Linked DNA regions of Homo sapiens. The protein of the gene in region 5 purifies or fractionates together with the protein of the main gene of each other region. This does not show direct contact. Each region holds a gene or a part of one and is shown on either strand. Other genes may lie near its edges. The genes, in order: CDK5RAP2, G3BP2, TESK2, KIF1C, DCLK1, RASAL2 and SIPA1L1.

What was found.
Region 1: the proteins of DCLK1 (region 5) and CDK5RAP2 purify together in Homo sapiens (co-immunoprecipitation; one large-scale study listed by IntAct). This does not show direct contact.
Region 2: the proteins of DCLK1 (region 5) and G3BP2 purify together in Homo sapiens (affinity purification with mass spectrometry; one large-scale study listed by BioGRID and IntAct). This does not show direct contact.
Region 3: the proteins of DCLK1 (region 5) and TESK2 purify together in Homo sapiens (affinity purification with mass spectrometry, with the first as the bait; one large-scale study listed by BioGRID). This does not show direct contact.
Region 4: the proteins of DCLK1 (region 5) and KIF1C purify together in Homo sapiens (affinity purification with mass spectrometry, with the first as the bait; one large-scale study listed by BioGRID). This does not show direct contact.
Region 6: the proteins of DCLK1 (region 5) and RASAL2 purify together in Homo sapiens (affinity purification with mass spectrometry, with the first as the bait; one large-scale study listed by BioGRID). This does not show direct contact.
Region 7: the proteins of DCLK1 (region 5) and SIPA1L1 purify together in Homo sapiens (affinity purification with mass spectrometry, with the first as the bait; one large-scale study listed by BioGRID). This does not show direct contact.

What each region holds. Positions count from the first base shown.
Region 1 is NC_000009.12:120,569,832-120,574,338, reverse strand, and holds part of CDK5RAP2 (CDK5 regulatory subunit-associated protein 2), read left to right. Parts: intron 1-2,297; coding exon 2,298-2,365; intron 2,366-4,507. UniProt on the Homo sapiens protein: Potential regulator of CDK5 activity via its interaction with CDK5R1. Negative regulator of centriole disengagement (licensing) which maintains centriole engagement and cohesion. Involved in regulation of mitotic spindle orientation.
Region 2 is NC_000004.12:75,666,286-75,670,792, forward strand, and holds part of G3BP2 (ras GTPase-activating protein-binding protein 2), read right to left. Parts: intron 1-4,507.
Region 3 is NC_000001.11:45,452,579-45,457,085, forward strand, and holds part of TESK2 (dual specificity testis-specific protein kinase 2), read right to left. Parts: intron 1-4,507. UniProt on the Homo sapiens protein: Dual specificity protein kinase activity catalyzing autophosphorylation and phosphorylation of exogenous substrates on both serine/threonine and tyrosine residues. Phosphorylates cofilin at 'Ser-3'. May play an important role in spermatogenesis.
Region 4 is NC_000017.11:5,007,621-5,012,127, forward strand, and holds part of KIF1C (kinesin-like protein KIF1C), read left to right. Parts: intron 1-4,507. UniProt on the Homo sapiens protein: Motor required for the retrograde transport of Golgi vesicles to the endoplasmic reticulum. Has a microtubule plus end-directed motility.
Region 5 is NC_000013.11:36,110,175-36,114,681, reverse strand, and holds part of DCLK1 (serine/threonine-protein kinase DCLK1), read left to right. Parts: intron 1-2,466; coding exon 2,467-2,813; intron 2,814-4,507.
Region 6 is NC_000001.11:178,453,780-178,458,286, forward strand, and holds part of RASAL2 (ras GTPase-activating protein nGAP), read left to right. Parts: intron 1-667; coding exon 668-869; intron 870-2,920; coding exon of another isoform or gene 2,921-2,941; coding exon 2,942-3,120; intron 3,121-3,903; coding exon 3,904-4,507. UniProt on the Homo sapiens protein: Inhibitory regulator of the Ras-cyclic AMP pathway.
Region 7 is NC_000014.9:71,585,701-71,590,207, forward strand, and holds part of SIPA1L1 (signal-induced proliferation-associated 1-like protein 1), read left to right. Parts: intron 1-597; exon of another isoform or gene 598-1,228; intron 1,229-1,870; 5' UTR 1,871-2,172; coding exon 2,173-3,670; intron 3,671-4,507.

The DNA.
Region 1 (4,507 bases), on a different chromosome or scaffold from region 5:
CAAGTGAATGATTAGAATGGAAAGAGGGAGCTGCTTGTGGCTGGAGGTGTAGTTGGAACTGACTGGAGGGTGCAGATGACAGATTCATAGCATTTTAAAAGTGGGTAGGTAAAGCCCGAGTGGAAATTTGGCAGGATCCAAGCAAAAATTTCTGCATTACATAGTGGTTTTGTCTAAGAGTTGGGATGTCAGATGTCATTTTTCAAACTTCAGTGTTTGCCTGTAGGAAGCTTGTCTAAGACCAGAATCTTTGGCTTTGTTTGCTAGGTACTTTTCAGCTGTGATTGATCTTGGCTTGAGTTATTCATGGGCAGTTTTAGCCAGTGGGAGTTAATGTAATGGCTCTGGTACCCGGAGAGAACCCCAGATTGAGAATGCAGGACCAGACCTTAGGCTGAGCTTGGCCAATAACCTGGTGTATGTGACCTTGGGCTTCTGGACCACCATCTGCAAAAGGTGATGGTTGAACTTGATTTTAGTTTTTAAAATTCAGTTTAGAAAATTGACTTTGTCCTTTTAGTGATGTTTATTGGAGGAAATTGAGAATTATATAACATTAAAAAGGAAGAAAACCTCTCATTTCCCTACTAATGATGATTTTTAATATTTCAGTATATTTCCTTTGTCTTGTTATATATCTGTAGCCCACCTATTTCCAAAATGGACTTGAGGTGACTTCAGTATTTATGTACTGTATATATTTGTTTTCATAATTGAGGACATATTCTGTTTACGTTTTTTCATTTACCTTTACAGGGGACACTTTTTTTTTTAAATTTTTTTTTTTTTTGAGATGGAGTCTCACTCTATCACCCAGGCTTGAGTGCAGTGGCATGATCTCAGCTCACTTCAACCTCTGCCTCCTGGGTTCAAGTGATTCTCCTGCCTCAGCCTCTCAAGTAGCTAGGACTACAGGCACCTGCCACAATGCCCGGCTAATTTTTGTATTTTTATTAGAGATGGGGTTTTACCATGTTGGCCAGGCTGGTCTCGAACTCCTGATCTCAAGTGATGCACCAGCCTTGGCCTCCCAAAATACTGGGATTATAGGCATGAGTCACTGCACCCAGCCCGGACACATTTTTTTGTGATCATTTTCTTAATGTTGGAATTTTATGATATTTCCAATTTTTTGCCTGTTTTTGATCTTGAAGGTACATTCCAACTCCAAAGTTTGGTGGTCAGGCAAAATTATCCTAGGAGCACAATGAATTTGGATTTAGAGGCATGGAAAGAGCAAATTGCCAAGAAGTCAAGCTGTTTCCATCAACTCCTACTTTACAGTGTGGGATAGGGAAGTATTCGTGGGAGTTGGACATAAAAGACCTGGCTTCTGGACCTGGCTCTCCACAGAACCGCCATGTGACCCTGGCTAGGACAGTAAAATTGTCTGGGCCTTGGGGCCTTCCTTTGAAAAATGTGTGCACCCTCAGGGAATTAGGCAATTCTAATGATGGTAAATCTTTTATAAATTGTAAAGCACTGTAGGTTTCAAGGCGACATGATATTTTGCTCCCATTTGTGGAGTACCCACAAGGTACCTTGCAATATCTTGTTTAATTGCCAGTTACTCTGTGAGGTAGCTGCTGTACTCATTTTACAGCTAAAGAAAGTGAGGCTCAGAGAGATACATGGCAGAGCTTAGAATAGATCAGGGTAGTGTCTTTTGTGTCACACCACACCTCCTATTATGGGTTAGTTTTCTGTCAGTGTCTCCAGATCCTCACTGAATTTATTTATGTAATTCAACCAAGACAACTTCTTGGATCAGTGAATTTTGCATTGTTTGACATTCTTAAAACATCTAAATTGGTGTCTGATTCCCAGAGGTGGTGATAGGCATATTAGTAGTCATAATGATAATAGTAACAACAACAATAGTTGCCGTTTACTGAATACTTACTATGTGCTTTGTGTTTATATACATGAACGAATTTAATTTTTACAGGGAGGGCATGGTATCCTCATGTACCAGATTAAGAGGGTGAGACTCAGAAACATAAGTATCTTGTACTTGTCACAGTGCCTCTGCCACTAGCACATATTTGGCACACAGAACATTTGATGTATGACTGAATGAATGATGTTACTGAAGGTCACTCAGCTATCAAGTGTTGGAGCTGGAACTCAGCCCCAAAGCCTGAGTTCTTAACCTCTGTGCTTCATGCCACATAGGTAGCCCAGCTGTGTGCATCCCTCCTGGCCATGGGATGATTGTCATGTGCAGTCCAGACCGTCTTAACAGTCTCTGTTGTTCAAACATTAGCTCATCTCTTATCTCATGTGTTCTCTCCTAGTGGCCTTGTTCCCAGTGTACCAGATGACCTGGATGGCATCAACCCCAATGCTGGGTTGGGAAATGGTCGTAAGTACACAAAACCAGGCATTCTCTTGAGTAAAGAACAAGGAAAGTAGACATTGGACTGTGAGCATCTTGAGCTTTCATATCTCTGGGGCCCAGAGGCTTCCCTGAACTGGCACACCGTAGGTGCTCAGTATTTTTTGTATGTATTGATTTGCTTTCCACCTCCTTTCATAAACACTGGACTAGAGGAATTGTTGTCCTTTTGGCCATACTTCATGAGTTTCATTTGTTGCTACTAAAGCTATAGGGATTCAGTGAGCGTTTGCTGAACTGAACAACTGCACGGAGGCTGGACATTGAATTGGCAGCTAGGCCAGTGGCTGGAGGCCCAGGAGAGCTGCCATCTGGACTGTAGCGTGCCAAGGCCTTCCTGGCAGGCTGCTGGATCCTGTTTGCCGGCTGAGGCCCCGCATTCCTACACGGGCCTGCCCTTTGGAGACAAATAGCTGGTTAGACCACAGGAGACGGCTCTGAGTAAATAAGTAGCGTACTGTGTTTAAGCTGGATTATGAGGAGACTTTGCAGTTTGGGTCTAGCTAAGCATTCTTCATAATTTTTATTTCTGAAAAAAGTGAATGCTTAAGCGTCTCTGTGGGTAGTGCTAGTTTTTGCAAAATATCTCTAAGATATTTTGACTTGTTCTTTTTTTTCTCTTCTCCACAGTGCTGAGATATGTGCAAGAGGAGGGAGATTTTGGAGCAGACAGGAAAAGAGTCCCACGGTTTATTTCTGGAAAATCCCTTAACTTACAGGGCACCTTCATGTTTTCCTGAGGAACCTATTAACTTTTACTTTATTTTTACTTTTTATTTTTTTGAGACATGGTCTTGTCCTGTCACCCAGGCTGGGAGTGCAGAGGTGCGATCACGCACACTGCAGCCTTGACCTCTTGGACTCAAGCAATTCTCCATCTCAGTCTCCCTAGTATCTGGGACTACAGGCGTGTGCCACGACACCTGGCTAATTTTTGTATTTTTTGCAGGACGGTTTTGCCATGTTGCCCAGTCTGGTCTCGAATTCCTGGACTCAAGTGATCCACCTGCCTCAGCTTCCCGAAGTGCTGGGATTACAGGCATGAGCCACTGCACTCATTGGCAACTTTTACTTTAAATGCAAAATCCAACAAGTCTGATTTGAGATGGAGTCTCGCTCTGTTGCCCAGGCTGGAGTGCAGTGGTGTGATCTCGGCTCACTGCAACCTCCGCCTCGTGGGTTCAAGCAATTCTTCTGCCTCAGCCTCCCGAGTAGCTGGGATTACAGGCACGTGCCACCACACCCAGCTAATTTTTGTATTTTTAGTAGAGACAGAGTTCACCATGTTGGCCAGGCTGGTCTCGAACTTCTGACCTCAGGTGATCCACCCGCCGCAGCCTCCCAAAGTGCTGGGTTTACAGGCATGAGCCACTGTGCCTGGCCAGCCTATTTCTTAATTTAGCCGATAGTATACATTTGCTTCATGCCAGACTCTGGGCTCAGTGCTAAAATTCAACCTCAAATGTGGTTACTGTTAAGCTGAGAAGACAGACAAACCCTTATGAGAATTTGTATGGTCAGTGTCAGGAGCAAAGATGTATCAAGTGCTGTGAGAGGGGATTAAAGGGAGATTTCCTCTGGTGTGGAGGTGGGTCAGGCTAGAGTTTCCCAAGAAATTGATATTGGAGCGGAGACCTGAATAAGTCAGATGTAGGTAAGGAAAAAGGAGGGGATGAGCATCCCAGACACAGGTGAGGGCATGGCCCGTTTGAGGAACAGGAAAACAAACTAGCGTGCCCTTCACAGTCTGCCCTGCCCACTCCTTAGCCTCTTTTCTGCTAAGTGGTTTCCGAACACCATGCCCACTCCCACCTCTGTGCTTTTGCCTGGGCTGTCTCTCCTTCCTTTTGTTTCTCATCTGCCCGGTGCCTCCTTGCTCCCTCTTTAAGACTCAGCTCAAAGCTCACCACCCTTTTTGGCTCTCCCCAGGCTGACTAAGGTGTACTTTCCTCTCTCAACATTGTGTATTTCACTTCATCTCATCTCATTTCATTTATTCCTGTTGGCTACTTTTAAAGTATCGGAATCAGACTAGTTCTCACCCACCTATACTCCTTCCATCCTACTCCAACCCACCATGATCTGCGGCCTAGATTATCCCAATATTCT
Region 2 (4,507 bases), on a different chromosome or scaffold from region 5:
CTATTGGAAGGCAGTAACTTGAAAAGTTAACTTCAAATGGTAAATAAGTAAGGCAATGCTAATCTGGTAAAATCTAAACAGGCATATAACAGGTTATATAGAAAGCTGAGCTTTTAAGGTGCAGAGGAGGCTCCCAAAGGAATGGTAAAACAAAATCAAGATTTACTGAGAGAACAGTGTTTCAACTAATTACATCAGTTACTTCTTTAACCATAACTCCGATTTGAAGTGACTCAGAATTTAGAGAGCCAAAATATAATTGATAGAAATCAACCAGAAAATGACTACTAGAGATCAACCATCAAACAACGTGGTTTGGGTATTGCAGGAAATAAGACTATGAAAATTGAGTAAGTAATATAAAGTTCGTATTTATAATTCATGCAGTGTACGTAAGAAGGTTGAGAAAAAGGAAAAAAGCCAAATTACACTTTCAGAATAAAAGTGATTACAAGAAGAAAGAATTGTGCCATTTTTATTATTCATAGCAAATCATCTTACAGGTAATCCATTTCTAGATCTGGGACCTTCCATTTCTTAAAAAAAGTTAACAAAACGAAACAAAATTCTGAATATGGGAGTAAAAGGTTTCAACTATCTTATCCATGGCCATGAAAAACTCATGACCTTACTGGATCTCGATTTCCTAGTTTACAAATTGAGAAGAAATCCCCGGTCAAGCCTACAAGACTATACAGTTCTACAAAGATAGCCAAGAAGGCCTGGTGCAGTGGCTCACACCTGTAATCCCAATATTTTGGGAGGCCAAAGTGGGTGAATCGCTTGAGCTCAGGTGTTTGAGACCAGCCCAGGCAACATGGCAAAACCCCGTCTCTACTAAAAAATACAAAAAATTAGCGGGGCGTGGTAGTGTGCAAGCGTAGCTCCAGCTACTCGGGAAGCTGAGGTGGGAGGAATGCCTGAGCCCGGGAAGTCAAGGCTGCAGCGAGCCAAGATGGCACCACCGCACTCAAACCTGGGTAACAGGAGTGAGACACTGTTTAAAAAAAAAAAAAAAAAGATAGCCAAGATTAAAGGATACTTATACACAAAAAGAAATCTTTAGAAAGTTCTTAGATTAGCACCTTCAAAGATAACTACCATCTTCAATAAGGTGGTTGTTAGCCTCACCTAACAACCTTTTTAGAAAAAGTTAAATACAATATATCACACTCCACTTCTTCCAATGACACCTGAAAATGTGAAGAATCTCACACAGGAATGCACAGTGTAAAATTTTATCTGATACATTAGCTCTATACACAGTCAAAGCTCTCTCATGAACAAATCCGTCTTTTACTTGTCAAATGAAAACATTATCCAAGGCCAGGCGCAGTGGCTCATGCCTACTTCCCAGCACTTTGGGAGGCAATGGCAGGAGGATCACAAGGTCAGGAGATCGAGACCATCCTGGCTAACACAGTGAAAGCCCGTCTCTACTAAAAATACAAAAAATTAGCCAGGCCTGGTGGTACGCGCCTATAGTCCCAGCTACTCAGGAGGCTAAGGCAGCAGAATTGCTTGAACTCAGAGGCAAAGGTTGCAGTAAGCTGAGATCACACCCTTGCACTTCAGCCTGGGCAACAAGAGCGAAACTCTGTCTCAAAAAACAAAAAACCGAAAACATTATCCAGTATAGTTTAGAGGCTTTTTACTCTCCAACTCTGCCTATCGCACCTAAAATCCCAGTGAATCTTCATCAGAATATTTTATTCATTCCTGTTTCTTAAAATGTTTCCTCTGCATTTGCCTAATTCCTGAAGCACATGCACTTCAGCTCTCACGGAAAATTGCTCTATATTTGTCACCATATTTTCTGAATCTATTAATTATACACATTGAGAGAGAGTGGAGTATTGGTAGATAATACACACTGAGAGGGAGTGGAGCATTGGTAGACATACATGCAGATTAGAAAAGAAAGTCACATTGAGCTTCATTATCCTACAATGAACTTATATTTCCTCAGTTTCAAAATAACGTAAAAACCAAAGTTATCACTCTCCTTTCCTCAAACTTTGACTAAAACGTCACCTTTTAGGTAAGAAACATTTAGGTTTTTTGTTTACCATTTAAAGTTCAGTGAATCACTACTATAATGGGGCTGCCTCCAAAACAATCAATCTTAGGCTACATTAATTTAGATGTAATATCTAAAATGAGTTGATTGCTAATTGAATATAGTGAATGGAAATTATAAGAAGGTAGATTTGGGTGAAACATAACACAAGAATAACGCGAGTTGTCCAAATATCAAATAGAGCTACTTAACAAGTAGCCAGTCACTACAGGTATTCCAGAGACTAACTGAATGGTTTGGCACAAACATAGTAGAGTCCATACATCCAAAAAAGTAAGATTAGGCCATTCCAACACTAAGATCCTAAAAGTCTGTTAACAAGAAGCAGGACTTTTGACTTCTCCTCCAATACTCATCTCACACCTTCCTATCTGCAATGATTGAAACCCTATGCATTTATCTGGGCCCAGCAGAAATCCTGTCCCCTTGAAAATCTTTCTACTCCTACTGAATTCCTCAACAGAATATAACTCTTCTCTATTAACTCTTAAAGCACTTTTGGCCTTTATCATAGCAGTTTATTGATCATGCTCTGCCCTAAATTACTAACTGTACACCTGTCTTCATCTTCTATTCCCCTCTCAAATATTATAACTCAGCTCTCCTTTGAATGCAATTCTCTGGAAACATCACAATTCTTCTCAATAATCGAATGACTTCTCAATCCTCCACCCATCTGCATTATCAATGTTGACTACCTCCTCCTAACTCTTCTAGAGTTCTATAAGGCAAATTTTCCTTCTCATCCAAACGCAGAATTTCTCAAGGTTCTGTCTTCTAACCTGGCAATTTCAGCTTCTGGTCTCATGTCTACCTAAACGTGTATCTAGTCTATACCATAAGTTCAAATTTTACATTTGTCACCACATACTGAACACCTAGACATGACCCACATATGTCCCAATACACGCATGCACCAAAGAAAGCTATTTCCTTATTTCTGTTAAAAGTGTCATAATCTTCTCAACTTGAAAGCTCAGTCGTGACTTTCTCCCCTTTAGCTTTGCCACTTAAACTGTGAAATCCTTACAATTCAGAAGGTGGAATTTGTGCCCTCCTTTTCACTCCCACTGTTCAGACCTTTTATTCTTCAAAAGTCTTTCAAGCCCCTGTATCACGTGTAGTATATACTGTACTGAGTAAAATCCAAACACCTGCATTCAGTTTGGCATCTAAGGCCCTACACAGAAATCCAGTCTGACATTCAATGTCATAACCAACCTTTCAAATTTATCTCCTACTATACTTTCTCATCCCTGTATCAAATTCTATACAAATATTTTAATCACCTAATATTATTCTCTGCAATTTCACTCTCTGCGCCTTTGTCTTACTTCATTCATTCCCATCCACAAGCTGAGTCAATGGGTTATACAAAATAAATTCATTTCAACATTTATTTTATGGCTACTATGTATGTACCAGAAACTACAAAAGGAAAAAGAGGCCGGGTGCAGTGGCTCACGCCTGTAATTCTAGCACTTCGGGAGGCCGAGATGGGTGGATCACCTGAGGTCAGGAGTTCGAGACCAGCCTGACCAACATGGCAAAACCCATCTCTACTAAAAACACAAAAAAGTTAGCCGTGTGCAGTGGCGGGCGCCTGTAATCCCAGCTACTCAGGAGGCTGAAGCAGGAGAATCGCTTGAACCCGGGGGCGGAGGTTGCAGTGAGCTGAGTTGTAAGTACTTGGTATTAGTTATTATAAAAAGAATAAGACCTCTAGTAATAGGAGGCAGTTCTCTTTACCAGATACTGTTACCAAAGGTTATGTGGGTGCTAAGACACAGCTTATCTCCACTATAGGATACTTACCCCTTTCCCCTCTGGAGTCCCTCACTCATAGCTGGGCTCAAACTAGTCAGGTTTATTTATTTTAATTGAACCATGGACTATATCCATTTCCAACAGCTAAATGCATATTAATACTGGAACTTTCTGAAATTCCAGATGGTTTTTGTTTGAAGTAACTTAAACAATCTAAGGAACACTATACCTTTTTAAAGAAATGACCTTCAATCTTTTGTGGTACACCATTGAATGAAAGCTTCACAAAGAAGATCTAAGAATCATAGTGGTACAAATAAATAATAAAAGTAAGTTATGGATTAAATCTCTTATTCAGGCTCCAAAAGGTGTTTTTGTTTTCTGTCCTTCTCAGAAGTTGAGGGAGGCTAGTTTTAAAATTCAGAAGCTATTAAAAGTGACCAAGCAGTAAGAAATGGAAATGCTTGCTGTCCACAAAAATAAAGCATGTATTTATACTATGTTTTAAAGTTTAACAAGTAACCTACTATTTTCTTTTGTCTTTAAAATAGATAGGGCATTATCTTCATTTACAGAAAAGGATGTTTAGAGAGCCTAAGGAAAGGTGTTTGGGGTTCCTCAGTTACAGTAAAAAGAAAGAGGATTTGAAATCAGGTCTCC
Region 3 (4,507 bases), on a different chromosome or scaffold from region 5:
GTTTGACCAGCCTAGGCAACACAGAGAGGGACCCCATCTTAAGAAAAAGCCTGGGCACGGTGGCTAACGCCTATAACCCAGCATTTTGGACTTTGGGAGGCAGGTGCAGGAGGACTGACCAGGCCCAGGAGTTCAAGACAAGCCTGGGCAACATAGCAAGACCCTGTCTCAAAAAAAGAAGAAAAAAAAAAAGCTGAGTGCAGTGGCTCATGCCTATAATGCCAGCACTTTGGGAGACTGAAGCAGGAGGATCATTTGAGTCCAGAAATTCAAGATCAGCCTGGGCAACAGAGCAAGACTCCATCTGTACAAAACACTTTAAAATTACCTGACGTGACAGTAACATGCCTGTAATCCCAGCTACTTGGGAGGCTGGGATGGGAGAGTCACTTGAGTCCAGGAGGATGCAGTCAGCTATGATCACGCCACTGCACTGCCGCCTGGATGACAAAGTGAGATCCTGTCTCTAAGAAAAGAAAAAAAAGAGGCTGGACATGGTGGTGCACACCTGTAATCCCAGCACTTTGGGAGGCAGAGGCAGGCTGATCACCTGAGCCCAGGAGTTCAACACCAGCCTTAACATGGTGAAACCACAACTCTACAAAAAAAAATACAAAAATTAGCCAGGTATGATGCTGTGTGTCTGTAGTCCCAGCTACTCGGGAGGCTGAAGTGGGAGGATCACTTGAGTCTGGGAGGTCAAGGCTGCAGTGAGATAGCACCACTGTACTCCAGCCTAGGTAACAGAATGAGACCCTGTCTCAAAAAAAAAAAAAAAAAAAAAAGAGAGAGAGAGAGATAAACCCTCTCTAACATGGTTAATTGACTGTGACATGAAGGGTGCCAAAACCATTCAATGGGGAAAGGACAGTCTTTTCAACAAATGGTGCTTGTAAAATTTGGTATCCTCAAGCAAAAGAATGAAATTGGACCCTTACTTTATACGATATTGAAAAATTAACTTAAAATGATCAATAACCTAAATGTAAGAGCTAAAACTATAAAACTCTTAGAAGAAAACATTGTGGAAAATCTTCATGATATTGGATTTGGTGATGATTCCTTGGATTGACACAAAAAGCAAAAGGTAACAAAAGAAAAAATTAATTTGACTTAATCAGAATTTAAAATTTCTGTGCAAAAAAGGACACCATCATGGGAGTGAAAAGACAAACTACAAATTGTGAGAAAATATTTGCAAATCATATATCTGGTAAGGGATAAATATTCCCTATATATAAAATATATAAATACAATGCAATTCAAAAATGAGCAAAGGATTCAAATACACATTTCTCCAAGAAGATATACAAAAAAGGTCAACAAGTACATGAAAAGATGCTCAATATCACTAGTTGTTTAGAAAAATGCAAATCAAAACCACAATGAGATACCACTTTTCACACCAAATAGGATGATTACCATGAAAAAGAAAAATAAGTGTCAGTGAGCACATGGAGAAACTGGAACCCTTACATATTGCTGATAGAACTGTAAAATGGCACAACCACTACGGAAAACAGTCTGGTGGGTCCTCAAAAAGTTAAACATAGATTGACTAAGTGAAATAAGGCAGTCAAAAAAAGACAAATACTGTATGTTTTCACTTACATAAGATATCTAGGGTAGTCAAACTCTTAGAAATAAAGTAGGATAGTGGTTGCCAGGGGTTGGGGGGAATGGAGAAATGAGGAGTTGTTTAATGGGTACAGAGTTTCAGTTTTGCAAAATGAAAAAGTTCTGGAGTTTGGAGGCACAACCATGTGTACATACTTAACAGTTGTGTTAAGTATGTACTTAACATAATTAAATACTGTTAAGATAGTAAGAAAAAGATTTATTTTTTATTTTTTTATTATTTTATTTTATTTTATTTTTCCCCCAGAGACAGAGTTTCGTCATGTTGCCCAGGCTGGTCTCAAACTCCTGGGCTCAGGCAATTCTCCCGTCTTGGCCTCTCAAAGTGCTGGGATTACAGGCGTCAACCACAATGCCCAGCCAAAATGGTAAATTTTGTATGTATTTTACCATAATCTTTTCTTAAACATAGAATTACTCATATGACTCAGCAATTCTATTTACAGCTAAATACCCAAAAGAATTGCAAGCAAAGAACCAAATAGATACCTGTATATCAATATCCATAGCAGCATTAGTCACAATAGCCAAAAGGTGGAAACAGCCCCACCATCGACAGATAAAATATGACATATATACACAATGCAATATTAGCCATAAAAAGGAATGAAATTCTAATATATGCTACAACATGAATAACCCTGAAAACACTATGCTAAGTGAATTAACTCTAACACAAATGGATAAATATTATATTAACCCACTTATATAAGGTACCTAGAATAAGCAAATTCATAAAAACAGCAAGTAGAAGATATTAGTGGGTGGGAGTGAAACTGCCCCCACAGGGTTCACAAGAAGTGCATGCCAGGTTCTGGACAGAAATATAGTTATAATTAAGCATTAATCAGGCCGCACTTTGGCCCACTTCCTGGTTGCTAAAAGTCATATAGCACTAGATACTGACTATTTGCATTCCTATTGTTCCTACAGAATAGGATTTCTGACATTAGGGTCATAAAACTTTAAGATTTTATTTCTATCCCCATCTTTCCTATAACAGGATCTCTGACATTATAATCATAAGGCTTTTGTTTAAGGATTGCTTAATATGTTTTTCAGACCCCTGAATTCCAGCAACCAGTTTGAAGTCCCCCACAGAGGAACGGGATCTGCAAGAGAATACAGCTTCTTCATCTCCCTGTCCCATGACTTCATCCTGTACTCTTTAACAAATAAACAATTGCCACACTTCGGCCCACTTCAAAACCCTTAAAAAACCTTAGCCCCCATCTCTTACGGGAGATGAATTTGAGGTTTTCCTCCATCTCCTCATTTGGCGGCCCTATGATTAGACCTTTCTCTGCTGCAACCTGGAGTCTCAGCTTATTGACTTGCTGTGTGCATTGGGCAATGAACCCATTTACAGTTACAGAAGGGAGAATTAGTGAGTTAACGTTTCATGGGTACAGAGATTCTGTTTAGGTGATGAGAAAGTTCTGGAAAAGGATAATGGAGATGGTTGTACAACATTGTAAATGTAATTAATGACACTGAACTGTACACTTAAAAAATGGCTAAGATGGTAAATTTATGTTATATATATTTTACTGCAATAAAAAGTATTTTAGAGAAAGACACATTAGAAAGAAAGAAGCTGGAAATGGTACATAGAGACAACTCTATGGAGTTGTTTTGGTCCAAAAAAAAACAAGACATGGGAAAGTATACCTATTAATAAAAGAAACAATAGGGGCTGGGTGTGGTGGCTCTTACCTGTAATCCCAACACTTTGGGAGGCCGAGGCAGGCTGATCACTTGAGCCCAGGAGTTCAAGAACAGCCTGGGCAACAAGGTGAAACCCCAACTCTCCAAAAAATACAAAAATTAGCTGGGCATGGTGTCATGCACCTGTAGTCCCAGTTACTCTGGAGGCTGAGGTGGGGGGATCATCTGAGTCCAGGGAGGTCAAGACTGCAGTAAGCCATGATCACACCACACTGCACTCTAGCCTGGGTGACAGAGCGAAACCCTGTCTCAAAAAATAAAATAAAATAAAATAAAATAATAGAATAAAATAGGTTGGGCGCGGTGGCTCATGCCTATAATCCCAGCACTTTGGGAGGCTGAGGTAGGTGGATCACTTGAGGTCAGGAGTTCAAGACCAGCCTGGCCGAAATGGTGAAACTCTGTCTCTACTAAAAATACAAAAATTAGCCAGGTGTGGTGGCAGGCGCCTGTAATCCCAGCTACTAGGGAGGCTGAGGCAGGAGAATTGCTTGAACCCGGGAAGCAGAGGTTGCAGTGAGCCAAGATTATGCCACTGCACCCCAGCCTGGGCAACAGAGTGAGACTCCATCTCAAAAAAAATAAAAATAAAATAAAATAAAGGGGAAATAACAGAGCCAAAATATTTGGGTTTTTTTTTTCCTTAAAAGAATTTTTTTAACATGTTAATGGTAATACTTAGTAGTGAAAATACAATGTAGAAAAGAGAGGGGAGAATTTCTTAGGCAATGCCTATTAGTAGGCAAGTGGAAATGGAATGTACAATATAAACAGAAATAATGGACTTAGGAGCATGAGTAGTTGATCCATAGTACAAGGTATAAAGGCCAAGTAACTGGGTAAAGATGTGTGTTGATAGCTATTTGTAGTAATGGAAGTCTGCAGAAGTTCTCTTCTGCTTGCTTCAATTTTCTCAGTGAATTGGGAAGCAATTCATTAATTACTGACAATGAGGACTAGTGAGGAAATACTGGGATTTGATGAGAGAAGAAAAGGTACAAAATACTCTCTTGAGGGAGTGAGTGAAACAGGGAAATATGATTGCTTAGGAGCATTATGGGCTCATATTTTTTGAGACAGGGCCTTGCTATGTTGCCCAGGCTGCTCTCAAACTCACAGCCTCAAGCGAGCCTCCTGAGTA
Region 4 (4,507 bases), on a different chromosome or scaffold from region 5:
GTGCTGTCCCTGATCGCTCCCTTTGAGGTCCCCGGCTTGTCCCTCCATCATTTCTGTCCCCTCCCCTGCCACCTCCTCTCCGTCTTGTTTAGTCATCCCTGCCTTCTCCCTTCAGCCATTCAACAGTCAGCCTCAGGAGAGGGAGAGGACCTGGGAAATCGGAGGTTGGTTGCAATAGAGCATGCTTTTGTATCATTTGAGTTTTGTATTCTGTGCATGCTCAAAAAGATAACTAAAGAAATCTATTTTTCAGAAGGATAACTTGGGAAGACAAGACTAAAGGGAATAGAGGAGGCATGAGCACTACATTGTAAGACAGTGGTTGCCAGTGCAGCGAGGGGTTGGTTATAGATGGAGGCACCCGTGTAGCTTGGAGCTATGCTGCAACTGGTTTCCTGGAGAAGGTGGTTTGGAAAGTGGAACCTGAAAGATGGACAGGACTTGGGAAGTATGGAGGAGTAGGGCCAACATGAGGTTGAAGAGCCTGGGGTACATGTTGGGGTGAGTGGGACACGCCAGTGCCTGACACGTGCCTGCCGCCAGGTTTTAGGTACCTAATAAATCTTTGCTGAAAGGAAGGAAGGAGCAGGGCGGGAGAGGTCAGGCTCAGGTGGAGGCAGGAATGATACTCCAAATATTAATAACCATCCGGCATAGGGACTGACCAGTCAGAAAGGACACTGGATATAGACAGCCAGCACCGCTGTACCGGTGCATACCAGTGAAGGGATGGTGCAGAGGCCAGTATACCAGTGAAGGGATGGTGCAGAGGCCAGTTTGAGCAGAGCATGAACTTCCAGTTCCACCAGGGAACCAGCCCAGCCCGTCTGGACCATGGTGTGAAGCAGCAGAGGATCAGGCCCTAAGTCAGATACACTGTGCTCTGAGCCAGACAGTGTCACTGGGGGCTGCCTGGAAGAGGTGATGGGTTACCAGAAGAAGGCTCCTCTCTGTTTTGTAAAGTCAGGTCCATCTGGGGGACTAAGCAAGCAGGGATCACTGAACCCCTGTTCTGAAAAGAGGAGAGGGGTTTTGCCTTGCCTGGCCCAAGCCACATTGAGGGAGTGAAAGAGCTGTGGGCGGTAGGCCAGGCTGCGTGTCTGGGGTCTTGTCTGGGGCTGGGTACCCTGGGGCTTTGGGGTCCTTCTGAGGGATCCAGACTCTTCTGGGACCCAGCCACACCTAGGTGGAAAGAGGGGCTACGGATGCGCTCAGCATGGCTTCCAGCCACCTTTGTATACCTGGAGCTGGGCCGCTTCCACCACGGTTGCAAGGATGGAGGAAAAGCAGAAAGGACTGGGGAGACTGGTGGGGTGGAGGTTTCTTCCTTGGAGAGCTTGCAGAGATGCCACCTGCCAAAGCCTGGGGACCAAAGGAGGGGGTTCTTGTTTTAATTGTTCTTATAAAGGTAATACACACCAGAGAGAACATTCTAATAGTTCTAAAAGGTGTGTACAGTGAAAAGTCTCCAATTTACAGCATTTTGTTATAGAAAAAAAAAAAAAGTAACTCTCCATCCTTCCCACCCTTAAGTTTCCCCTCAGAGGCAGCCTTCATTATGAGTTCTTTTTTTTTTTGAGACGGGGTCTTGTACTGTCACCCGGGCTGGAGTGCAACGGTGCAATCTTGGCTGACTGCAACCTCCGCCTCCTGGGTTCATACGATTCTTCTGCCTCAGCCTCCCAAGTAGCTGGGATTACAGGCGCACACCATCACACCCGGCTAATATTTTGTATTTTTAGTAGAGATGGGGTTCACTATGTTGGCCGGAGTGGTCTTGAACTTCTGACCTCGTGATCCACCCACTTCGGAGTCCCAAAGTGCTGGGGTTACAGGTGTGAGCCACCGTGCCAGGCCCATTATGGGTTCTTACTATATTCTCCTTGGGTCGGGCCTGGTGGCTCACACCTGTAATCCTAGCACTTTGGGAGGCCAAGGCGGGTGGATCACGAGGTCAGGAGATTGAGACCATCCTGGCTAACACAGTGAAACCCCGTCTCTACTACAAATACAAAAAATTAGCCACGTGTGCTGGCGGGCGCCTGTAGTCCCAGCTACTAGGGAGGCTGAGGCAGTAGAATGACATGAACCCGGGAGGCAGAGGTTGCAGTGAGCTGAGATCGCACCACTGCACTCCAGCCTGGGTGACAGACAAGACTCTGTCTCAAAAAAAAAAAAAAGAAAAAATGTTCTCCTAGAGATGCTGTCTAGGAGATGTTATAACACATGTACAGGCATATGTTATATAGAACTATACACATTTACTCACATTCACGGCCTCTCTAATAGTTGTAGTTGCATATCTATTTTATTTATTTATTTTGAGACAAGAGTCACACTCTGTCGCCCAGGCTGGAGTGCAGTGGCACAATCTCAGCTCAGTGCAAACTCTGCCTCCCAGGTTCAAGTGATTCTCATGCCTCAGCCTCCCAAGTAGCTGGGATTACAGGCACCCACCACCACGCCGGGCTAATTTTTGTATTTTAGTAGAGACAGGGTTTCGCCATGTTGGCCAGGCTGGTCTCAAACTCCTGGCCTCAAATGATGCACTGGCCTTGGCCTCCTGAAGTGCTGGTATTACAGGTGTGAGCTACTGTGCTTGGCCTGCATACCTTATTTTAAAGCTTCCTTTATTTTTTTCACGGTGTCAGGGTATTCTATTGTGTAGATGTAGGATAATGTATTTAACCAGCTTCCCACTGATGGACATTCAGATTGTTTCCCATTCCTTGATACTACAAAAAAAGGCTACAATGCATAGTCTTACAAATGGGTGTTATCTGTAGAGCAGATTCCTAGAAATGGAGATTTTGGGTCAAATGGTAGCCATGTAAAATTTTAATCTAGGCCGGGTGCGGTGGCTCACGCCTGTAATCCCAGCACTTTGGGAGGCCGAGGCGGGCGGATCACGAGGTCAGGAGATCGAGACCATCCTGGCTAACAAGGTGAAACCCCATCTCTACTAAAATAGAAAAAATTAGCCGGGCGTGGTGGCGGGCACCTGTAGTCCCAGCTACTTGGGAGGCTGAGGCAGGAGAATGGCGTGAACCCGGGAGGCGGAGCTTGCAGTGAGCCGAGATCATGCCACTGCACTCCAGCCCAGGTGACAGAGCGAGACTCCGTCTCAAAAAAAAAAATTTTTTTTTTAATCTATATTGCCAAAGTGCCCTCTGAAGATTATAACCATACCAATTTATTTTACTTTTTTGAGATGGAGTCTTGCTGTGTTGCCCAGGCTGGAGTGCAGTGGTGCAATCTCGGCCCACTGCAAGCTCCGCCTCCCGGGTTCACGCCATTCTCCTGCCTCAGCCTCCCAAGTAGCTGGGACTACAGGCGCCCACCACCACTCCTGGCTAATTTTTTGAACCATACCAATTTATACTCCCAAGGGTAACATACAAGAGAGCCCATTTCCCCTCGCCCTTTCCCACATTCTGGCTTAGTAAGACTTTTCTCTTTGCCTGTGTGATTGGTGAGAAGGTGTCTTAAGGTAGTTCACTTTTACATTTTTCTCAAGGTGGTGAGGATGAACTCTTCTCATGTTTAAAAGCCATGTGGTCTAAAGCCAGAAGAGAGAACTGTTAGACTCATGGGGAAATGGGTTTGGTGTGAGTAGCTCCAACAGGGAATAGTTGGGTCTTAGAGGAAAAAACTACAGTTTGTCTTGGAGGGAGCCTCCTCTTGCTAAGACCCCCACCACCAGGGCTAAGGATTGCTTAAATCAGTGGTGTTCAAACCTGGTTCTGAGCTGCCTTCTCAGGGGCTGAGGATAGGGACAGGACCAGACCCTGGGGCTCTCACCCCCAGCCTGGGCCTGAGCAGCTTCTTGCTTATCTGCTTGATGTCCTAGGCTTCTAGAGAAGGTTTCATTTTGAACAAAGAGTTATAGGGCTGAAGAAAAAGTTGAAAAGCACCGCCTCAAATCGTGTTCCCTCTCCCCAGGGATAGATTGCTTTCTGCTTCCGGAGCCCATCAGCGTTTGCCAGTCCCAGAGCAGGCCTGACACTGCAGTGTAGGGAGGGGCATGGGAGTCCCTCAGGAGAAGTGTCGCAGGAGTGATCCTTGGAGCACTTGGGTGAAGGGCGGATGCACAAGATACACAGACACCTCTGGGGGACACAGCTTTGGGCTCTGAGTGTTAAGTGGCTCCCAGAGAAATAGAGGTTCGACTCCGTGCTGTTTCCCTTCTGTACCCTGTGCTTTCTGCCTCCATGCTTCTGTCCAGGCTGCTTTCACCCGGAGCGCTCTTGTGCATGTCCACGCCCTCCTTGTCCTCAAAGGCTGGCTCCCATGTTACCCTTCCATTAAGTCCTCCTGATCCCCTTGAAATCCCATAGTTCTTCACTTTGTTCCTCTTTGCATGTGAGTCCCTCCCAGAACACAGTGGCACTCAACCCCCTGGGAACAAATGAATGAATAAACGAACTTAAACAAGGGCATGAGACAATCAGAAACTCCTCCATGAGGCATCCGTTTCCCACTTGTAATGGTGTTTCCACGCCAAGCC
Region 5 (4,507 bases):
TGTTATGATTACTGTAAAAATAGTTAATACATAGATTTAAAAAGATTTAATGGAAATTTCTTTTCATGATAAAATGGAAATGTATTAGCATAAGGAAATCAATGGAAATTTATTAGCATAAGGAAATCCATCTGGGCCTTTCCTGAATTCCTGAATAGTGTCACAGACTCTAAATGACTGTGGTGTGTGATCTTGGATTTGGTGGCAGCTCCTTCTCCTTCCTTTAGCTGTTGCTTTCCTGTTAGCACAGTATCATCTGTTACTGGAGTCTCACATCCTTCTCTAAGATTCTCATTCCAGTCTTTAAATCTGATTATCCAGCAGAGGAGCCTCACATTTACAGCTCAGATTAAACACATATTTCTTCTGATCATTGTTGCTTGAACCAAACCAGCAACGCCTTCTCAGTGTAACTGGAGAACTTTCTTATGCTTTTAAACATTTTCAGGGTGCTTTATCTAAGAAGATATTTTTAAAAAGTGTTTATTTTCTCTTTTAACAAACTCACTCCATGTTGCTATGTTCTTTAAAACTGCTCCCTCTTCTAATTTAATATATTTTTAAAGTTTTTGTTGAAATGTAAACTGCTCTCTGTATCTTTGTTTTGCTTTTAGTTATTAGCTTAGTATAGAAACTTATAAATAATCAGACAATTGCATATCTTCAGTTAGCACAGAATTCTGACAGAGGCTAGCTTTGCCAGCTCAGTTACATGCTGTGTGTCTCACTGGGGAGTGTTAGGGCATTCTCACATTGACATGGACCCAACGTGGTGTCCACTGGTAACTGTTCAATATAAGACCTGCTTACCGATTTCTAGTAATTTTGTTTTTGAATTTTTCTTTCAGGCTTACTGCACGATTAGGGTATGTAGCCTCAGGTCATTTTCACTCACATAGCAGGTTTGTATTTGAGATCACTTTGATCTCTATCTTCTAATTTGATCTTCAGAAAAACCTAATGAGGTTTTGTTTTATAGATAAATAAACTACCACCCAGAAATCTGAGGGACTTGTCCAAAGTCACATGCTTGGAGAGGCCAGGTCTTGAGCCCGAATTTCCAGTTCTCTCTTCCCACTATCATGTGCAGGTCATCACTCCATGAAAACTCCCAAAACACTGCTGTTTCTATAGTACCCAAATATGCCTTTCTCAGGATTTAAGAAAATATCAAAAATACATATAAGTTTTTGATATTTACTTAAATCCTGAGGAAGGCATAGCTGAGACAAGTCATGATCTGCCAGGTGAATAGAAATGGGGTTGGTTAAACTTGCACTATTCATACAACTTCTAGTGAGGCATAATGTGTATGTATACACATTAGAGAATATTTTAAGAACATCTGCAAAACAAGTGTTCAGTAACATGTATAACTGCTCTTTTTAACTTTTGAAGGCCTGCTTCAGTTATTTTTATGTGACTACTTATTCTTTGGCCTTGGATGCTTGCACTGTGAATTTAAAAATAATACAAGGACTTAGATAAAAGTCAATGGGCTGTGTTAGATTAGGCCTCGGTCATTTTACCTACAATTATGAAGGTCTTTCAGCATTTTTACCTATTCCTAGTTACAAAAACTTATTAACACAGAAAAAAAGCCATTACAAAATCTTTAATTTCAAAAGGCTTTGACCTAACTTTATGAAATATGTATTTAGAATTCGTCATTTTACAATTTGTTGTCTCTTGGTTCATGTTTTTCTTTTTTGTGTGTGTGATCTACATCTACTTAATAGTCTGATTATTTTCATTAAAAGATTTCCTGCTAAGGAGTCACTTTTAATAAACATTTACTTATATTTATTTTAGAGCCCATTTTTGAAGCTGTAGTTTGTATGTTGAACACTTCTAAAACCTCTTACTTATGAACAAGTATGAATTGACCTTATAGTATGTGTGGATCACTGTGATTGGCACTATATAGATGAGAGAAAGGAAGGGTGATTATTTGCTTGCTTTTGGAACTTTACTGGGCTTTACAAAATCTTTAGCATCAACTCTCATCAAATTCGTAAATTATATGACTATTTTAAGATGCTGTATTCTGATTCATTCTTAGTGTTTAAATTATCTCAGGTAGCAAATGGAGGTACTTCCAATTTTGAAATTTTCTGCAGATTTAAGTATCTCTAATTCCCAAAGAATATTTTCTATTTTAAATTCACTTTCACACTTCTCTAAGGTCTTTTCAAGTAGATCAGCATTTCTATCACCGACCTTAAGATGAGGAAATGGAGGAATAATGTTTTGTTTTGTTTTTCCAGGATGTGGATCTGTTGCTGACAGTGCCAGATTAGCAATCAGAAATCTTTCTTTTTCCCTAATTATTAATCACACTTCCATTGTTTGAAAAGTCAGGGCTAGCTCTTGCCCCTAAGCAGAAAAGGCAAAAGAGAGGATAAGTAGGAAAAAAGAAATGGGCATATTTTAGTATAAATTTAAATATATTTCTCTCTTCCTTAGGAGAGAGTTATGTATGTGGCTCCATAGAGCCCTTCAAGAAACTGGAGTACACCAAGAATGTGAACCCCAACTGGTCGGTGAACGTCAAGACCACCTCGGCTTCTCGGGCAGTGTCTTCACTGGCCACTGCCAAAGGAAGCCCTTCAGAGGTGCGAGAGAATAAGGATTTCATTCGGCCCAAGCTGGTCACCATCATCAGAAGTGGCGTGAAGCCACGGAAAGCTGTCAGGATTCTGCTGAACAAGAAAACGGCTCATTCCTTTGAGCAGGTCCTCACCGATATCACCGATGCCATCAAGCTGGACTCGGGAGTGGTGAAACGCCTGTACACGTTGGATGGGAAACAGGTAAGAGACATATTGTGATGTGACTTTGACTTTAAGGCAAGAACCAGGGAGTCGGAGGGTGTACGTGGCTAAAGCATACATTTTGCTCAAGTTGTTAAAGGGCCTGGGTCACTTGATCAACAAATATGTACTTGCTGGCCCTAGAACAGTCAGAAGTTTGAGTTGAGCAGGATTATTCATAGGAATAAAGTAAGAAAAAAATGCATATCTTTGAAGATTAAATAATTACTCAGTGATTTCTACTTGTTCATTTATTATTTGCTTAACATAATGATTCTTTTCTGTCATCTGTTTTCAGTTTTCTCATAGATCTTATAGCCTGAAGAATGAATGACTGAGGTGTGAAAGTAAACTCTGACCAGTAGGGAAAATTCTAACTTATTTCTTTGACCTAAATATTTTATGATTTTAAGTCTTTGTAGTGTTCGCTAGTGAGATTTACTTACATTTTATAGATTTTAAAATATGTATCTAAGAAATGACATATTTCCATCTGGATAGCTTTAAAGGCATATTTCTAGAATAGTACGCATCTTGTATTTTTCAGTGTTAAAATGAAAGGGAGGTTTTTCAGCTACAGAATGAACATCAGTTGACTTGGATGGGTGGTCATTTTAATGTGAGTTGGTCAGATGAACCCAAAGGAAGCATCACCTTTTATTGTCTTGGGTGGACTATTTTTGTACAGGTTTGACAGAACCTTGATGGTGAGTTGAATTAAAAAACATTGATTAGGGCCGGGCACGGTGGCTCACGCCTGTAATCCCAGCACTTTGGGAGGCCGAGGCAGGCGGATCACGAGGTCAGGAGATCGAGACCATCCTGGCTAACAGGGTGAAACCCCGTCTCTACTCAAAATAAAAAAAAAAAATTACCTGGGTGTGGTGGTGGGCGCCTGTAGTCCCAGCTACTCAGGGGGCTGAGGCAGGAGAATGGCGTGAACCCGGGAGGCGGAGCTTGCAGTGAGCCGAGATCGCACCACTGCACTCCAGCCTGGGTGACAGAACAAGATTCCGTCTCAAAAAAAAAAAAAAAAAAAAATTGATTATATGTACAGCATGATTTGCTAGTCATTCAGAGTTTACCAGATTATACTTTTGAGCACACTATCTTTGCTGGAAGTTTAGTTTTTAATGTGGTGCTATCAAAATGCTTTTTTAAAAAATTTTTTTTGAGGGATAATTTGAATGATTTGTATGTATAGTAAATATTAAAATTAAAATGATCCATGAATTAAAAGATTGATCTTATTAAATAGAAGACTCCTCCAAGTTCTTAAAGGCTAGCGCATTCAAACTTTCTGAATTAGAAATAGATGCTAATCCTAGAAAGAGTATTAGTCATGAAAGAATACTTCCCTTAGGGATCCATTCAGATGCTCTAAATTATAAAATTCATTAGGAAAGAAGGAATATGTGCCAGTTGTTCATTTGTATTTACCATCTTTTGCTTGGCTTATAACCCTTGCCCTAAGTAATATGCGGATAAGGATTCTAATGGATGAGATTCTCTAATGAATGAGACTTAGTCTTCTATATTTAAGAGTCTGTAGCCTAAATGTCGTAAATCTATCAATGACCAGAAAGTTCATGCTGGCTTGTGAATTATAGTAGCAATAAGATGGCAAACTTCACCTTTACACATTTTGTAAGCCCTTCACTGGCTCCATTTCTAATGAGTTATTCAAACATCTT
Region 6 (4,507 bases), on a different chromosome or scaffold from region 5:
AGTTTCTGTTAGCAATGTATTGAAGAAAAAAATTGGAACTTCAGTGAACAGATTGTTTTCTAGTATAAGTGGTGGCTTTTTAGAGGTGTACTATTTTAATTTTGTATAATTTATATATAAGCCAATGCAGAAATATACATATTTATCGATATTTGAGCTAAAAATATTTATATTTTATTTTGGAACAGGTTTTATGGACTTAAACTAGGCCCTGCAGATAGCTAGAATCTAGATAGGCAAAGGAGAGAAGTTTTTCTCTAGTGCAAGTAAATAGCATGGGCAAAAGCTTGGAGAAGAAAAAAATGTGTAATATATTTGGGAGACTTTGTAGAAGCTAGCAGTATTGAAGGTTTGTACTGGTGAGCTTTTGGTAGGTAAGTGAGGGCTATATTGCAGAGAAATTTAAATCCCAGAACTAAAAAAAAAAAAAAAAAAAGGAGTTTTGGCTTTACCCTTTAGAGAGAATAGAAAGCTATTCTCAAAGCATTAGAATATTAAAGTGATATTAAGAAAGTATGTTATAACATTTATCACTTATAGATAATAAACAAAATTAGTCATTCCCTCCACAAAATAAAAAAAAGTAATAGTTCTGTGTAATGTCAAATCAAAATGATCATATCTCTCTTGAATATGTTCTTTCTCATTTTCTCATCCTCTACTTCAGGTTTGGTAACAAAGAGGAATACATGGCATTCATGAATGATTTTTTAGAACATGAATGGGGTGGAATGAAGCGCTTTCTTTTGGAGATCTCTAATCCAGACACCATCTCAAACACCCCAGGCTTTGATGGTTACATTGATCTGGGCCGAGAGCTTTCAGTTTTGCATTCCTTACTGTGGGAAGTAGTTTCCCAACTTGATAAGGTAAAGTAGGTTGGTGGAAGATAGAGAACTTTAATGTACCTGAATTCTGGAAAGTAACTATAGAGTGATAGCACTCACTCTTTCTGCTAATTGAAAGCAACTGTTTACCCTAGAAATCTGAGAGTAAATGGTCATCATTTCTGAGTAAAATATGAGATCGACAACCATGAAACTCTAGAAAACCATGACATTATTAATATATGTTTTTAATAATTATCTGAATTAATGGAGTATATTTCTCTAAATTTATATATACAGAGTGCATATCTGAAAACTTGACTAGAAACTAATATATTGGTATATACAGCCTTATGCATGTCTAATAGGATAAGATGAAACCTCATATAGTAATTTCTAATAAAAGTATAGATTTAGCTAAGAAAATACTAGGTTTATCATGTTTTAAGTAACTACCCATGAAACAAATTTTTTTACTATACAAGTCATAGAGTTTCATATAATTATTAGTGCTAACAGTCATTGTTTTCTTTCTTTACAGATGTGAATTAAGAATACAGAAAGCAATTATTTTTAATCGTTTGCTAAGAATTTTATTATATACCGTATTAATAAGTAAATATACACCATGCCAATCATTTTCTTCCTTCTGGAATTTAACAAAAAGGAATAGATTTGGTAGTAAAAAATAGTCTAAAAGACGTTGGCTAGGCTTATTACAATAATTATTTATTGATGTTTTTGTTTGCTACAGGCACTTTATAAATATGTGTGGTGGTATGTTAGAATAACTTCAAAAGACAGTCATTTTTCTATGATAATGATCTACTTATTTTCCTCTATTTTCCTATCAATAAAAATGCTATATCAGTAAAATTTGAAGGGGAATAAAACCTATTAACAAAGACCACTTTGCTGAGGAAACATATGTGGTAATGTGTCCTCCAGTGCTTAAAATATTTGTAAAACAATAAACTGTTCCTTATTCTCGAGGACCTTTTCTTCACTTTTAGAAATGCTAGCTAGATTTTTAAGTTGCAGCTATGCCAAAGATAAACCCTTTTCATGTGAATCGTAGCCCAACATTATTGAGCAAGTAAAGGCCTTGGTGGCATCTATCCCTGTTTGAGTAGGGTAGAAGAGTCTGTTGATTGTTGAGAAGGCAAAGACCCAAAGGCAGCTATGCCAAACTGACTGACAGTTGAAGGGGACCCCTAAGACCCCATGAGAATAAGAATTCCCTAAATAAAAAAATGATTGAAATGGATAAAGCAAGTATTAAAGAGTTCGTCTTTGTTGAATAACTGCATCTCAGTGGAATGCAGATTCAGTTTTCCTGTGAAATGGGCCTGGTTTATTCAGGATCAAAGTCTTTTTAACGGGCTTTGCTATGTAAACACACTTTCTCCTTTTTAATCTGTGTTTGGTCCTGGGAACCAGGAATACATCTAGACATATCTCATAGAGGAAGTTTACCTGATTTTGCTGTTAAATTAACAATAAAAATTGTCTTACTGATGGAAACTCAGTTGGCAGTGGGTCAGGGTTCCCAAGATTGACTGGGATAGTGGATGGCAGTATCATCTGTGTGCCCTGCAGTACTCTGGATTCCTGAATGAGCACCTTCTTATATGTTGGCATGCATTTCTTTTCTCACATGATCCCTTTTCTTTGAAAGTTTATCATACTAGTTGATCCTCTGATCTTGAAGTTCTTTTGGTTAGAAGGAATTTGGTTCTGCCTCCACCCTCCCCCACCTTGATCTACTAGCCTCCCAAAGATTTAGTTTGCTTCGCATGCCTATTTTAGTTGGAATGGCATTAGTTTGGTAGTTTTGAGCATGTCTTTTAATTTTTACTTGCATAATCCTGATTTCGATTTCCTTTCTTTCCTCGATGTCTGCCGCACCTTGTTTCGCCTCCTCCATTCATCTCGACGCCATGGTTCTGCTGCTCCATAACAATGCATTATGAACCTGCCACTCCCATATGCAAACACTTACCCTTCCCTCCAACCTACACCCCTCCATCAATGGCCATCGTTGTGCCAAAAACAATCTGTGGTGGATGTCGCAATGCTTATTATCCAATTAGGGTGAAAATTCCTTCCTACAGGCGACCGTGGCAAAATTGGGGCCTCTCCCTCGTGTTCTTGCTGATATTACCAAGTCATTGACTAATCCTACGCCAATACAACAGCAACTGAGACGCTTCACTGAACATAACTCCAGTCCAAATGTCAGTGGAAGCCTCTCCTCTGGGCTGCAGAAAATATTTGAAGACCCCACTGACAGGTATGAAAGAGAGAATTTGACCACTATCTCGGAGAAACATAATGTTTAGATTTAGCAGAAGTATATTCAACCTATTTGTTGAATTTACAAGTTTAAAATCATGAGCAACTGAAGACTCATCTGACCTGAGAGCAGTCCAATTATTTGTCATAATAATGCACAAGATCTGGGATGACTTATTTTCTAGAATGGTAGTATAGAGAGTTACAATATATTCCACAAGCATATTTTTAAAATTTCTGTCTTGCTTAGTGGAAGACTAAAGGCTTTATGAAATTCATGTTTCTGTACGTTATAGCATTCAAAATCTTGGAGAACCTCGGTTAAAACCATTTTATAGCTGGCTATGTCAACTGGACAGGTAGATACAATGTCGATGCTTAGACTGTTTTAGGGATTGGCAAGACTTGTGCCTTTTGCAGGGACCTTTCAGTTGTGTGCTTAGAACTTCTTCTCTTGAAGGTTTAGACAAGTAAGTATGAATTGGAATATTTGGGGAAGGTTTAAAACCTAACTAGGAAATTATTGGAATCCTGGTTAAAACTGAAGACAGTGATGGGTTGGTATCTACAGTGTTATTCTGTACCTTTGGGGAAAAAGTAAAAATGCTGGATTTTATTCTAAGCATTGTAATAATTCCCTAATTAGATAAAATCTGAGTTTCCAAAGAAATGTACGTATCCACATAAGAACCTTCGGAGGAGTTCATATGCCTGAATTGAGGCATCTTAGCCATGTTGAAGTTGTCTCAAGAGAAATTAAGTGTCCTTTCCTTTTCCACAGTGATTTGCATAAACTAAAATCTCCAAGCCAGGACAACACAGACAGCTACTTCAGAGGGAAAACATTATTGCTGGTTCAGCAAGCCTCCTCTCAGAGCATGACTTATTCTGAAAAGGATGAAAGGGAAAGTAGCCTTCCTAATGGTCGGAGCGTCTCCCTCATGGACCTCCAGGACACTCATGCTGCTCAAGTGGAGCATGCATCTGTCATGCTTGATGTGCCTATACGCTTGACCGGAAGCCAGCTTTCCATAACCCAGGTGGCCAGCATCAAACAGCTGCGGGAAACCCAGAGCACTCCCCAAAGTGCACCCCAAGTGAGAAGGCCCCTGCACCCAGCCTTGAACCAGCCAGGTGGCCTTCAGCCCTTGTCGTTCCAGAACCCTGTCTATCACCTCAATAACCCAATTCCAGCAATGCCAAAGGCCTCTATAGATTCCAGTTTGGAGAACCTAAGCACTGCCAGTTCCAGAAGCCAAAGTAACAGTGAAGACTTCAAGCTCAGTGGACCCAGCAATAGCAGCATGGAAGATTTCACTAAACGTAGCACTCAGAGTGAGGACTTCTCCAGGCGGCACACGGTGCCAGATAGACACATACCTCTT
Region 7 (4,507 bases), on a different chromosome or scaffold from region 5:
ATTTATTTGGATTTCTGTGAGGTTGTGAGAAATGTTGAAAGCATCTAATTTTTATAAAATCTACTTTAGAAGTATTATTTATGCTATGTAGAGTATTCATTGAAATAATCAGCTTTTGGGGAGATGTTGAACAGGTGTTTGCATTTTGGTTCAGTTGTTCAATTTTCCTTCCATTTTATGAGAATCACTTCTTGAACCTTTGCTATGGCCATATATGCTGTCCTTTGATATCCTCGGAAGCAACAGTTAGCATGTTTTGTCACTTGAAGGGTTATCATTGAAAGAGGAACATGTAAAGTTCTGGAATGTAAAGGGAATAATAGCAGTCTGACAGTAGAAGTATCTAGAAAGCTCAAAAGCCATGTTTAATTAGGTAGCAGTGCAAAACTATTATCCCTTTTACAAAAGATGGTGAAGAGGAGTGCTAGTGAAAACAAATGGCATTTATCTGAATGGCTCCACAGACTCAGCCAGCACGAGCCCAGCCAGAGCTCGCCTCACCCTGCATTCTGCAGGCAGCATGCATTTTTTTTTTTTTTTTTTGAAACACCCCTACATGTTCCAGCCTTTAAATAGCAGCGAGTCTTCTAAAGTGATGCTGTGTGCTGCAAGAGAAATGAAAGCGCCTGCCTTGGAGGCAGGAAGCCGACTAGGGAGATGCTTAATTATCGTGGAAGTAGGTGCTTGTTACCATTGAGTGGAGAGTGCAGCAAGTGCAGGTCGTCCTCCGGTGTCAGAGCCGTGATTTGTAGACAATGCCGCCCTGTCAGCTCAGTGCTGGTTCAGCAGCATCTTTCCAAACATGTATTTGGCAAGAATTTAAAGGCCACCTCTTGTGTAATTTGTGGAGTCTTGGAAAAGGAGCCTCTGCCTTTCTTTTCAGAATGTACGCAACCATGCAGAATTTTGTACTCAGAATCTGTGTCTCCTGCCTTCTGCCTGACGTGCTCATGAGGAAGTTTGTTTCCATGCCCGTCACCTGGAAGGATGCTAACAGTTCTCTGTAATCTGTTGGGGATATGGAGAGGGCCACCCAGAGCTGTGTTTTGTTTCTGCCGTCTTCATAAATTAGCACTGATGGGGTGGAGTAGGTTGTACTGCATGAGGAAATGCAGGCATTTTGTTCATTAGTGAGATACTTCTAGCTTTTAAGAGTACAAGAAACTAAGGAGAGCTTGGGAAGAGGTGGTGGTGAATGCTGGATTCATTCTGCAATATCCTCGTCTCGGTAAGTAATAAAGTAGAGGAAAATACAAAAGAGTGCTAATGGATATAATGGCTCTGGGAAAACTCTTTTTATTTATTTTTTCCTGCTGTATTTGTTTTTGCCAACTATGTTAAGCCTTTGTAAGGAAACAAAAAACATGTATTGATTTTGGAATAGAGGAGTTAAAAAGTGATTGTTGCAGCATATTCAGTAAAGTCATTTTTCAGTTTTTACTTTTGTCAAAAAACTCTGTTGCTCTAATTATCTTATTCACTTGGTTACATCTCAAACTTCTGGTCATCACAGTAGCTCATGATGTTCTACATTTTTAGAGGTCATTGGAGCAAAAGTCTGTACTTTGGGTAGGAGCCATGATATCCAGAACAAGATGTACCCCTCCCCCTGCCCCCCATTTTATGAAACAGTTCAATTAAGATGAAGTCTTAATAGTTTTTTTTTTTAGAATATAAATTATGGATTTTATCAAATGGTTTTTACTTTCTTCCTTTCTTTCAAACCTGCTTTACTAAAAATACGGATTGTGGAACTGTGAATCCTAATCCATTATTGAGTCTTTTATCTTCATGTGTCTGGTTTTGACAATTGCATGTTTGTTTTTAGATGTATTTATCTGCTAATTCAAATTATCCTTTTCTCTTTTAGAGAAAGCATGGGATTATGGCAACCACAGAATCTCAGTAGTACAAGTTCCATTCAGTTTTTTCTGAAAGAAAGCCCTCTGTTAAAGTGAAGCAAAGAAACTGTTGTGGATTATAACGTTTAGAAGTTCCAATTTTTCAGTGCTTTACAAATAAAGCATCATTTAACCTTTTAAATGAAAAAGATTAAGATCTCATGCAACTGTTGTATTTTCTGGAAGCCATTCTCCAAAAGGGAAGTGCACATTTAAAACACAGATATGATGGTCCTTGCTGCAGGGATTTAAGTCTACTTGCTTTTACATCATGACCAGCTTGAAACGGTCACAGACAGAAAGGCCTCTTGCCACTGACAGGGCCTCTGTTGTTGGCACAGACGGCACCCCCAAAGTCCACACTGATGATTTCTACATGCGGCGCTTCCGGTCCCAAAATGGCAGCTTAGGATCATCAGTTATGGCTCCTGTAGGACCCCCCCGAAGTGAAGGTTCTCACCATATAACCTCAACCCCCGGAGTCCCAAAAATGGGGGTAAGGGCAAGGATTGCAGATTGGCCCCCAAGAAAGGAAAACATAAAAGAATCTAGCCGTTCAAGCCAGGAAATAGAAACCTCAAGTTGCCTTGATAGCCTGTCCTCCAAAAGCAGTCCTGTGAGTCAGGGAAGTTCTGTTAGCCTCAATTCCAATGACTCAGCCATGCTGAAAAGCATACAGAACACGCTGAAAAACAAGACAAGACCGTCGGAGAACATGGACTCCAGATTTCTCATGCCTGAAGCCTACCCCAGCTCCCCCAGAAAAGCTCTTCGCAGAATACGCCAGCGAAGCAACAGTGATATCACCATAAGTGAACTTGATGTGGATAGCTTTGATGAATGTATCTCACCTACATACAAGACTGGACCATCACTGCACAGGGAATATGGTAGCACATCTTCAATTGATAAACAGGGAACATCTGGAGAAAGCTTTTTTGATTTGTTAAAGGGCTACAAAGATGACAAATCTGATCGAGGTCCAACTCCAACCAAGCTCAGTGACTTTCTCATTACTGGTGGTGGCAAGGGTTCTGGTTTCTCTTTGGATGTAATAGACGGGCCTATCTCACAGAGAGAGAACCTCAGGCTTTTTAAGGAAAGGGAAAAACCACTCAAGCGACGTTCAAAATCTGAAACTGGAGACTCATCTATTTTTCGTAAATTGCGCAATGCCAAAGGTGAAGAACTTGGGAAGTCATCAGATCTTGAAGATAACCGATCAGAAGACTCTGTCAGGCCCTGGACATGTCCAAAGTGCTTTGCCCACTATGATGTCCAGAGTATATTATTTGATTTGAATGAGGCAATTATGAACAGGCACAATGTTATTAAGAGGAGAAACACCACCACTGGAGCTTCCGCAGCTGCCGTGGCATCCTTGGTCTCTGGACCTCTGTCTCATTCAGCCAGTTTTAGCTCCCCAATGGGCAGCACAGAGGACCTGAATTCCAAAGGAAGCCTCAGCATGGACCAGGGAGATGATAAAAGCAATGAGCTTGTAATGAGCTGTCCATATTTTCGGAATGAGATAGGTGGAGAAGGGGAGAGGAAAATCAGCCTTTCAAAATCAAATTCTGGCTCCTTTAGTGGATGTGAAAGTGCCTCCTTTGAGTCTACCCTTAGTTCCCATTGCACAAATGCAGGAGTGGCAGTACTTGAAGTGCCCAAGGAGAACTTGGTGTTGCACCTAGATAGAGTGAAAAGATACATCGTGGAACACGTAGATCTGGGTGCATACTATTATAGAAAATTTTTCTACCAGAAGGGTAAGTAGAGATCCTTTATTTCTTACATTTTCTTTTGCAGTACTTTCTGAAGAAAAGTACTGTATATTAAGATATTTATTAACAATGTGACATAAGATTTGCATGTCTTATCTTTCTTGATGGTAAAATAGCTAAATAACCATTTGCTCAATTTATTTCTTTTTGCATTTTTTGAGTTACTTTCTCCTTTCAGATATATAAATGTCTTGTATGTTAAATAGTACTTTTACAAATAAAAAGCCCCTTTGACTTAGCGATTGAAATTATAGTCTTTGTTGTACAGTAGATTTGCTGTGTCACCTTTAGGGATAAATATACCAAGTTGAAAATATTTGAAATATAGCTGTTGTTTAAGGATTGCAAAACAGTTTTAATGCTACTTTCATTTTTTATCACTTCCACAGTAAGTACAGGAATCATTTCTTTGCTGCTTCAATGTTGTCATCAGTAGGTGGTAATTATAATATATTCCTGTCCATTTACAGGAAGTATTGTGAAAACAAATTACATTATTTGACAAAAGTCACAGAGCCAATAAGTCTCAGTGCCAAGAATCAAATCTCGGTCTTTGAGTAGAAAAGGCACTGAAGAGAGAAGTACCTTTGACATAAGGGCCACTTCCTTTCTAATCTTTTCTTTGAGTGGGAGAGTAAAAAAAAAAAAAAAAAAAAAAAATATATATATATATATATATATATATATATATGTACACACACACACATATATACACACATATATACACACATATATATTTGAGATTATACACAGTTTTATCTCATACTTTTAAGAAAGACCATTGTGATTTACCGAAAAGTAAGTAGTATAAGTGAACCCTTA